Regions from separate parts of the Homo sapiens genome. Here region 1 is linked to region 2. Evidence: fine-mapped expression QTL. A gene starts in region 2. The other region holds a variant in brackets. All regions are shown on one strand. Distances are from middle to middle.

Evidence for each region. PIP is the estimated chance that this variant, and not a neighbour inherited with it, causes the effect.
Region 1: its variant is fine-mapped to the expression of YWHAB in lymphoblastoid cells after a statin (CAP, PIP 0.93).

The regions. Positions count from the first base shown.
Region 1 is chr20:45,773,784-45,779,160 of GRCh38, reverse strand. WFDC3 (WAP four-disulfide core domain 3) reads left to right here. Exons shown (of 7, transcript NM_080614.2): 5 at 1,952-2,086; 6 at 3,559-3,744; 7 at 4,717-4,948. The coding sequence ends at 4,733. It also overlaps the pseudogene RNU6ATAC38P. Among named protein-coding and RNA genes, the nearest start is that of WFDC3, 15 kb to the left of the region's middle. RefSeq lists enhancers at 917-1,211, 3,415-3,584. The variant C/TACACACAC (reference allele first, on the strand shown) is at 2,843.
Region 2 is chr20:44,883,413-44,888,789 of GRCh38, reverse strand. It overlaps YWHAB (tyrosine 3-monooxygenase/tryptophan 5-monooxygenase activation protein beta), which reads right to left and starts at 3,085. Exons shown (of 6, transcript NM_139323.4): 1 at 2,904-3,085. RefSeq lists silencers at 2,792-3,341, 3,402-3,461 and an enhancer at 2,739-3,355.

The DNA of each region.
Region 1 (5,377 bases), 890 kb before region 2:
CCTGGGGCCCTGGCCAGTTGCCTGCATGTTTTAAGGATAGTGTAGTAGAAAAAGTACTTTACCGCAAATCAAGAGGCTGAGTGTTGTCCTGCCTTGCTGCTGACTCACTCTGTAGTTCTGGGCAAGATTCTTCTCTGAGTTTATTTTCATAGGAAATGTGTTTGGCTGCACACAACAGAAAATTAATCATATAGGGGTTTGTTTTTCTCATATAACAAGAATTCCTGAGGCTGGGATGGTGGCTCCATGATGCTAACAAGGATGAAACTATTTCCCTCTTTCTCCTTTGCAATTCTTTTTTTTTTTTTACATTTACATTTTATTATTTATTTATTTTAAAAGACGATGGTTAGATGCCACAAAGTAGGTGGCAATGCTTGAACCATATGCATGTTGTCAGGCCCAAAGGCCTCTTCCATCCTTGTCGAGGGGAGTGCTAACCTTCTCTCCTTTCATACAACACCTCTTTGCAATTCTTGACCATTTCGTTATGCTGAGTTGCCTCCTCATTGAAAGAAGGCTACTCTGCCTCTCTGTGTAATGTCTATCTTTGGACTGGAAGAAGAAAGAAGTGAGGGAGCAGTTTGAAAGGGGTATTCCCTGTGTCAGGAATACAAAAGTTTCCCAGTTTATGTCCTAGTTTGTGGTCACCCCTTGTTGCAAGAGAGTATGGGGAAACAAATCATTTTAGCTGGACCTGTTGCCTCTCAGAATAAACTTGGTATCCAGTATCTATTGCTGCATAAGAAACCATCTCCAAACTTCATGACTTAAAGCAATATAGTTACTCTTTCTCACAGTTGTGTAGGTTGCCTGAGCTTGGCTGGGCAGTTCATATACCCACATGATGTAGCTGTGGTCATTCATTTAGCTGCATTCATCTGGGAGCTTAGCAGGGAGCTCAACTGGAGCCACAACGTCCAGGATGACCTCTCTTCTAGGTTCTGTCTCCATGGGGCATCTCATCATCCCATAGCGTAGTTCAAGCTGCTTTATAGCATGGCGGCTGGTTTCCAAGAGGAAGTATTCTGAGTGGACAAGCCCCAGTATGCTAGTGCTTATCAAGGCTCTGCTTACATTACATTTGCTAATGTCCCATTGGTCAAAGCAAGTCAGATGGTCAAACCCAGAGTAGGTATGGAAGGGGACTACAAAAGGGCCTGAATCCCAGGAGGTAAAGTTCACTGGAGGCCACCATTGTAAATGTCTGCCACAGGGAGAATTCAGGGAGAATGTTGGCCACAGTGGGTTAGACCTGAACAGTGTTTTTCAAACTGTGAGTCCTGAAAGCAATTTAGTAATTAGGAAAAATAAGAACTAGAATATAAAATATCAGGGTGGGCTGGGTGGGGGGGCTCACGCCTGTAATCCTGGCACTTTGGGAGGCTCAGGCGGGAGGATCACTTGAGCCAGGAGTTTGATATCAGCCTAGGGAACATAGTGAGACTCTGTCTCTACAAAATAAATAAATAAAATTACCCAGGCCTGGTGGCTTGTGCCTCTAGTCCCAGGTACTCAGGAGGCTGTGGTGGGAGGATCCCTTGAGCACAGGAGTTTCAGGCTGCAATGAGCTATGATTGTGCCACTGTACTTTAGCCTGGGTGATACAGTGAGACCCTGTCTCTACAAAATAAATAAATAAATAAGCCAGGCATGATGGCATGTGCCTGTAGTTCTAGCCACTCAGGAGGCTGAGGTGGGAGGATCCCTTGAATGCAGGAGTTTGAGGCTGCAGTGAGCTATGATTATGCCACTGCACTTTGGCCTGGGCAACACAGTGAGACCCTGTCTTAAAAAAAATCAGATGTATTGCAGATACATGATACACATAAATATTTACATTATATATGTATATAAATATATAACTATATATAAACATACACATGGGACACAATGAAAAATGTGTTTCATATTGTGAGCGTCTCTGGGCTCCAATGCTTTGATTATGTAGCAGAGTTTGGTGGTGAATGTCCCGCTGACCCCCTTCCGTGTGAGGAGCTGTGTGATGGGGATGCATCCTGTCCCCAGGGGCATAAATGCTGCAGCACCGGCTGTGGCCGCACCTGCCTCGGAGACATTGAGGGAGGTATGTTGGCTCTTTTGGGAAGAAATCCTTGAGTGTTTCCTGAGAAGAGTGCTTCTCTTTCCCTTCCTGGGAGGAGCTAGGATTCTCATCCTTCCTGTCCCTCTGGTCCCCCAACCCAAAGCAACCCATTCTTCTAGGGCCGAGGGGCCCTGTCGACATTAAAAGAACTGGGGGAAGGCACTGTGGGGCAGTAGGAACTACTTGGGCTGGAAGACAGACAGTGTGGCTTTTGGTCTTGATTCTGCTGAGGTTTTGCTTTGTGACCTTAGGTAAGCAAACCCGTCTTTTTGAGCCCAAATTTCTTTATCTGTAAAATGAAGGAGTTGCCCAAGATCCTGATTTTCAGATCTAATTTTTAACAAAAAGCTTCTCCCCTGCCCCAAATGAAATCTTAGTTGGAAACACACACACACATATATATATATATATATATATATATTTTTTTTTTTTTTCTTTTTTTTCTTTTTTTTTTTTTTTGAGACAGAGTCTTGGTCTGTACCCCAGGCTAGAGTGTAGTGGCGTGATCTTGGCTCACTGAAACCTCTGCCTCTGGGGTTTCTTCTGCCTCAGCCTCCTGAGTAGCTGGGATTACAGGCACACGCCACCATGCCCAGCTAATTTTTGTATTTTTAGTAGAGATGGGTTTTCATCATGTTGACCAGGCTGGTCTTGAACTCCTGACCTCGTGATCTGCCTGTCTCGGCCTCCCAAAGTGCTGGAATTACAGGCGTGAGCCACCACGCCCAGCTGGAAACA[C/TACACACAC]ACACACACACACACACACACACACACACACACACACACAGAGATAAAAGCATTCCTGTTCCAATGCCTTTTTTTCTTCAACATTTTAAAAAAACAAATATTTTTGAGTGCCAGGCACTGTGGATCTCCATTAAAGAATCATTGACCCTTGTGCTATCTTAGTCCCTTTAGATTCCCAGGCAGTGCTCAAGGCTGAGGACAGACTCTTGTCCGTATGTAGCTTATAGCCCATCAGGCAAGATAGACATATTCCTTTTAAATAAGGGATTATGATAAAGTTTGATGAGAGGAAGCATACAGGGTGCTACAGGAGCACAAAGCAGGGACATCAAACCTTGTCTAGGGTGGCAGAGGAGGCCACCGTGAAGAAGTGACACTATGAATCCAGAGCATAGGGGGAGGGGGAGTGGTCTGGGAGGCTTGCCCCTGCCACACTTCACCCACCCCCACCCCAAACCTGCAGAGGTGTCAATCCCTGAGTTACCTCTTGGGAACTCCCTTTGGGGCACCATTTGAAAACTCTGGGCTCAGAGGTCTCTTGGGTTCCTAAAGATTCTGAGATCCTCCAGCGCCATGGTTTCCCAGCCAGTTTAGTTGGGTCTAGTGAGGGTCAGGGGTTGATTGACCTAGAGCCTCTGTGTGTAAGTTCACGATGGGAACATGGAGATGGCAGAGCTGATGCCCTGTCCCTTTTCCTGTGCCTGTTGTTCCCACAGGGCGGGGCGGTGATTGTCCAAAAGTTCTGGTGGGCCTGTGCATTGTTGGCTGTGTGATGGATGAGAATTGTCAAGCTGGAGAAAAATGTTGCAAGTCAGGCTGTGGCCGCTTCTGTGTCCCACCAGTCCTGCCCCCAAAACTGACCATGAACCCCAACTGGACTGTGAGGTCTGATTCCGAATTAGGTGAGTACAGTCCATTGTCATCAACAATAACAGACAACTGCTATGTGCAAAGCACTGGCTTAGGTGCTGGGAAGGGGACTTCAGAAGGTCAGGAAAAGTCTAGTTGGAGAGAAAGAACCTATGTCCCAGATGAAAACCCTCATACAAACAGTACAGGCTTACACCTGTTCTCAGGTGTGGCAAACCTGTGTCCCAGATGAGAACCCTCATATAAACAGTACAGGCTTACACCTGTTCCCAGGTGTGGCTCCCTGGGAAGGTCTCTGTGGGAGAGGTGGGATTTGATTGAGGTGCTTAAGGCTAGGCAGATGCGACAAAGGGAGGATAGCACAGGGACATGCCAGATAGGCAATCTGGTGATTGCTGGCAAAGGAACACAGGGTGGGAATGTGTGGGATATGTTTGGGAGGTGAGGAGTGGGGGCAGGGTGGGTAAAGGAACAGACGTATCTCCAGTTTTTTTTTTTTTTTTTTTGAGATGGAGTTTCACTCTTGTCACCCAGGCTGGAGTGCAATGGCACAATCTCGACTCACTGCAACCTCTGCCTCCTGGATTCAAGCAATTCTCCTGCCTCAGCCTCCCAAGGCTGGGATTTACAGGCGCCTGCCATCATACCTAGCTGATTTTTGTATTTTTAGTAGAGACAGTGTTTCACCATGTTGGCCAGGTCTGGTCTCGAGCTCCTGATCTCAGGTTATCCACCCACCTTGGCCTCCCAAAGTGCTGGGATTACAGGCATGAGCCACTGTGCCCGACCATAATTCCAGTTTTTTATAACAGGAGATACAAGGTTGACATCTGAATAATAAGAGCCTTCAGTGCCAGTTTGGATTGGATTGTCTGGGAAGCAAGGAGCTATTTAAGACTTTTGAGAGCAATATAGGCCAAGCTTTCCTAGGGTGGAGGGAAAACATTTCAGGTAGCTGAAGCCAGGAGGGCACAGCTGTGACTTGATGTTTCTTCTACTTGCAGAGATCCCGGTGCCCTAGCTGTGCTGATTTGTCTGGAGCTTCTTTGGTAATTCTGGAAGCTTTTCCTGGCAGTCAAGAGAGGGTGACATCCTGGGGCTTGTGACATTTCCAGGGGCACTCATGGCCCTCTCTGCTCTGCTTCTCCTCCTGCCGCTGACCAGAGCATGGGAAATAGCCCTGGATTGGGTAGTGGGTGTGTGGTGCTTCTCTTTCCCGATAAAGGCTGGTGCTGACCTCTTGTTTGTGCTATTTGAGGGCTCAGATGATATGGGAGAGCTAGAGGGTATGTGTGTGCCTGTGGGATTGTACGATTTACATATTTAGGACAGATGGGTAATCCATTCTTTGTGAGGACACTGAAAATGGGTTTTGGTTGGGTGTGGCTAGGGAAGAGATGGGTGGAAACTAAACTGAGAGTGACTTGCCATAGATGTCTTTCTCAAGCCCTGGTGGGGGTGGAGGTCAGTCTCTTTTAGACCTGCTGACCTTCTTTCTTTTATTGGAGAATGTGGGTTGAGGGTGGAAACTAAACTGAGAGTGACTTGCCATAGATGTCTTTCTCAAGCCCTGGTGGGGGTGGAGGTCAGTCTCTTTTAGACCTGCTGACCTTCTTTCTTTTATTGGAGAATGTGGGTTGAGGGTGGAACAAGGGTGAGTGGCTA
Region 2 (5,377 bases):
CTTTCTCCCTAGTATGAAGCAAGTACTAGAAAAACTGGATTGTTCACAAGCTTGCTTCCTGATGCATGCTAGCAATTATCATCCCTACAGGCCAGAATGGGTATATGCTCCACAATAAATTGTCCTGTATCTATCTTCAAAAATAGCTAATATTCCCATTCAAACGTTTACTTTATTAGGATTGGTGTAAAGAAAAATTAAGGACTAAATGGTGTTCACATAAAACATATACATGTGCTGTCTCTACCACATGCAGAAATCTATAATATCATTCCTCAGAACCAGATCACCTGGTTTCATTCCTGGTTCTGGCACTTACCTTGCGCTGTGTGTGAGACCTCGGGAAAATTATCCTTCTCAGTGCCTTAGTTTCCCCATCTGTAAAATGGGGCTAACAGTCTTACCTTTCATTGGTTGTTATGAAGACTGAGCTAATATGCTTAAAGTGCTTAAAAGAAAGCTTAGCACACAGTAAGTACTGTAAGTGGTAACTATTATTATAGACTAATTGTCTGATACCACCTCATCAGTTGGTGAATAAATCACAAATGGATGGATTCTATATAAATGTCCATGAATAGCATATATGCTATGTCTAATCTATACACGTGTATATTCATGCAGATGGTCAATAACATCTATTGAACCCCAACTATATCCCAGATGCTTATTTTCATTATTGAGCTTGTCGCAACAAAAATATATCAAAAGCTGCATTACCATTTGTGCTATATAGACGAGAAAATGATTCAGAAAGACTGGATTTGCCTATATGCAAAATAAAGTCCTATAATAATATACCATTTTTTGAAAGCAACATGTGTACAAAGCAGGGTTTAGTGTCATCAGATGTTAACTGGAGAGAAAAAGCCATTAATAGTGAACTCTGATTAAAAAACAAACCAAAAGCTTATATTTAACAATTTACAGTTTATAAAAAAGGCTTAATGATAACCCTGGAAATAAGAAAACCAAGAACCAGAGATTAACATGCTGAAGATTCAGAAAGCTAGAAAATATTGCAGGCAAGATTTCAACCAAATTTACCTGACTCCAAGTCCAGTGCTCTTCCTGCTTCTCTATCCACAGCCGAATGGGCAAAATGCACTTTTTGTAGCGGCCCAAATCTCTGGAGACTCTGCCTAGAGAACCAGCATCATGGGAATTTGCTCAGCCTGGTTTTATAGAGGCTGCCTCCCTGATCTATAGCGCTCCAATTCTAAAATGGCTTCAATATAACAAGCACTGCAAGATGTGAAATGTACAAAAGATTACAGGGTAGGCGTCATACTCCAGGGGCTGGCAATCCATAAATATTTGCTACTGATGAATGAGGATATTCAGTTTGAAAAAAACTAGGTGTATAGTCTAGGCCAAATCACCTCATTTCTCATAAAGACTTCATCTGCAAGATAGGTGAATGGTTTCTTATCTCATTGGAAGGACAGGCCAGGAAAATAATTCTGCAGTTGCTACAGGATTATTAGCCTTCCATTTTGAAAGCCACACTTAAATTTCTAACTTAGGTCCAATAAGATTGACAGGTTTTACACTCACACACCGTGTGTTGCCAAGGACAGGGATCCAAGAAAAATGAGGGCTCAAACAAATGAGATATCCCTAAGTAAGAAATAGGGTACACTGGAAGCAGTCAAGAAGAAATTCACCAAGAACAAATACTTATACACATTTCCAAATGAAAATGCAAAAGCTGCAGTGTCCAGGTCTACAAACTGCATCTGTGTCTGGCTTCACATGAACTGACAGAATGAGAAATGCAGACAATTTTCATATTCTTATAAGTGCTTCACCTTTCTCTTTTGGTTCCCGAGGCTGATTTTATGTTCATAGCATCATCTTGCCAAATTCCATCTCCCACACAGGGCAAGCAAAATCAGGACCTGATGCTATCTAGCCTTACCAAAGAGAAATGCAATGAAGGCAACGACAAGAAACATGTATTTTACAGAAAGGTTGGCAAATTGCTTACCAAGGCTGCCACCTCTGAAAACCCCATTATATGGGAGTTCTCCATTTGCGGCAAAGATGCACTCACCTTCCCACCTCTTCTTCCCTCCGCTCCCCACCCCCCGACCAGGAAGCCACCGGGCAAATTTCAGACCGAAAAACGTGCTAACACACAATATGGGGGAATTTGGGGTAAAGACACAAAAGAATCTGGCATTAAATGACGGTAAATACTGTGAGAAAATACTCCGATTCTCACCCCCTGATATTTTTTCCTGGGGATCCGGCCTGACTCAGTAACCGGCTCCAACAAACAGATTTTCTTGATTCAAACCCAATTCCCTTCCTAGGGAATCTTGGGTCCTGCCAGGCTCCATAACCAGTGAAGGATGATGAAATGGTTTTACTGCAAAATGGGAGGGGGTTCCCCCACTGCTGTCTCCCAAGGTTAAACCCCTTACTCATCCAGGAGGAGCCAAACACGGGGACTGGGGCTAGAAAACTCATCCGCGTTTGATTAAATTTTAATTTCTGGAAACCAGAAAGCACGGAGCAGAGGTGACAGGGCTGAAGGGGACGTTCTTGCCGACCAAGACGCAGGGAGGGGTCGCGTGGGGCCCGAAGCAGATAGTGAGGGAGGGTCCGGGATCCCCGGCTCCGCTGTCCCTTACGGCACAGTACGGAGTTGCACCCCGCCCGGCCGGCAGGACCTCAGGCGGCCCGAGCCTCTCCAAGAGGTAAAGGGCCCGGCCCCGGAAACAGGGAGGGGCCGCTGCGAGGTCTGGCCTCGCCGCCGGCGGCCGCGCGGAGCGAAAGAGGCAGCGCGCCGCTACCCCACGGGGCCCACCCACTGGGCCGCCGTCGTCGCAGCAGCCAGAGAGGGGCTTCGAGTTTGGGCCCCCGGGGGCCCCGGTCGGACCCCGCGCCGCACTCACCGTGGGAGGGCTGCAGGGAACAAAGACCCTTCCGAGCGAAGCTCCGAGCGAGATGACCTCTTCCTTCCTAAGCCCACTACTCAGGCGGCGGCAGCGGTGCCTGCAGTGGCTGCAGCGGCGGCGGCGGCGGCGACTACCCCGGCTCCGGAATCGGCGGCGGCGGTGGCGGTAGCTCCACTTCCGCTCCGATCGCCACTTCCGCTCCGGTCCTGGCCGCGCCCCGCCCCAAACCGTGTTCTCATTGGGCAAGCGAGGCACGGGGTTGCCACGGCCCCACGGGAGGGGCGCAGACGGAAGGGAGGAGGAAGAAGAGCGAAAGGCAGGGTTGCAGGGGCCGGGGCAGGGCGGATGGCCGGGGGAGGGACCCAGGAGGAGGTGGGCGGAGAAGAAGGAAATGGGGCGGGGGAGCGGGAAAAGGAGGTGGGAGGAGAGAGGGCGGAGCTGGGGGTGGTCAAGATACGGGCTGTGTGGGAATAAGGAGGACTAGGAGTGTGGTCTGGATGGGGATTGCCCTTTCTGCTGGGACTGGAAACGCGCCAGGGCCAGTCCCGGAGATTCGAGGTTTAGCAGTTCCCCCTCCACCCCGAAAGTAATCCTCACTGGGTCGGAGGCCGATGTCAGTCCTCTTACTGTGTGCTTTGGTAATGCTGGAGCCAGGGAAGAACAGAAATTGCTCATCCCTCAATGTTCATTTAATCCTTTCAATCCTTCAGGGTACTTACCTTTTCCTTCTTTGGTAGACTGAAGAGGCCACGTGAAGTGCCAGGAATCCAATGCACAAACGTCTTTTTAAAAAACCTGTGTAGGGTCGAGCGCAGTGGTTCGCGCCTGTAATCTCAGCACTTTGGGAAGCTGAGGTGAGAGGATTGCTTGAGGCCGGGAGTTGTAGGCTGCAGTGAGCTATGGTCATGCCACTGCACTCCAACCTGGGAGACAGAGTGAGACCCTGTCTCCAAAAAAAACCCACAAAAATCTGTGTACATGATTTCTTCTTTAAGATGCCCCCTCGTTGAGGAAGTTCAGGGAAGGAAACAGGCCTCCATGGCTCCCCTCCCCTCCATGACTGCTCTCACAATTACCAACATTCTACTCCTCTGAAGGTAGTTGATTTTGTTTTGTTTTGTTTTGTTTTGTTTTCTGTTTTTGAGACAGAGTCTCTTTCTGTCGCCCAGGCAGTGTCACAATCTTGGCTCACTGCAATCTCTGCCTCCCAGGTTCAAGCAATTCTCCTGCCTCAGCCTCCTGAGTAGCTGGGATAACAGGTGCATGCCACCACTCTCGGCTAGTTTTTGTATTTTTAGTAGACACGGGGCTTCGCCATATTGGCCGGGCTGGTCTCAAACTCCTGACCTCAGGTGATCCACCCGCCTCAGCCTCCCAAAGTGCTGGGATTACAGACATGAACCACCTCGACCGGCTTCAAGGTAGTTGATTTTTAAACTCAGTCCTTCAAAATGCCTCTCGCCTTCCCTCTCTCCTGTTCATTTATTCTTTCAACAAATGTTGAACAGGCTTTTTGCTTAGTGCTGGAGACACAGCAATGAACAAGGCAGGTGGGGCCCTGCTGTCTTGGAGTTTGCAGTCGGGTAGGAGAAAAAGCCAAGTAAATAGGCCTTTGCCGTCTTGCCTTTACCCTTACTTAGCTAAATGACAGACTTCTAATTCACCATTTGGTCTCAGCCTCGCCCGTCAACTGCCAAGTGATCTTTTAAAAATACCATTCTAATCGTGTCCTGTTCTTGCTTAAATTATTTAGTGTGCACTCAGACCTAGATGACAATATATAAGTTCCTTGAGTGTGACAATCAGGGTTCTCCAAAAGCTGCCCTTATCCTTTAGCTGCTATTTCTCCCCCATCGTAAATACCCCAATTCAATTGGATGATTCCTTACCCTCCCAATATGCCATCTCCAGTATTTCTAAGCAGTTTGACTTAGTTGCCAACACTTTTTTAAACTGAAAAGTTTCTGTGTGAACAGAAATCTGCCTCTCTGCCTTGTCTGGTAACACTGTGTCCACATTTCTGTGTGGCAACAATTGGCTGAAGCCAAGGAGTGGCTGCCTGTTCTAGACTGGGCATGGACTTTCCCAAATGCCAGGGACCCTTCTCGACCTGAGTCTGCTTTTGTCACTTATGTTATCTGTCATGTAGGCATGTGTGCCAGTGACCCCTGTACTGTGCCACCTTTTAAGTTGAACAAGATTGAGAACGTGTTGTGTAACGTAAACAGCATGGTTTTGGGTCAAAACCATTGGATTTGAATCCTGGAGAGGTTAGTGCAAAAACTTCCCCATGAGGATCGTCTTTGGCAGACCCTAGACCAGTAATCTAGAGACTACTCAGGCTAAGTAACTTTTAATGTCACAAGACTGTGCCTTATGCCGTCATCCAGAAAATAGCCTAATGGACCAGAGGGCTAATAATGATTATACCACAAATGACATCAACAGTGCATTGAGGGAACAGAAGTGCC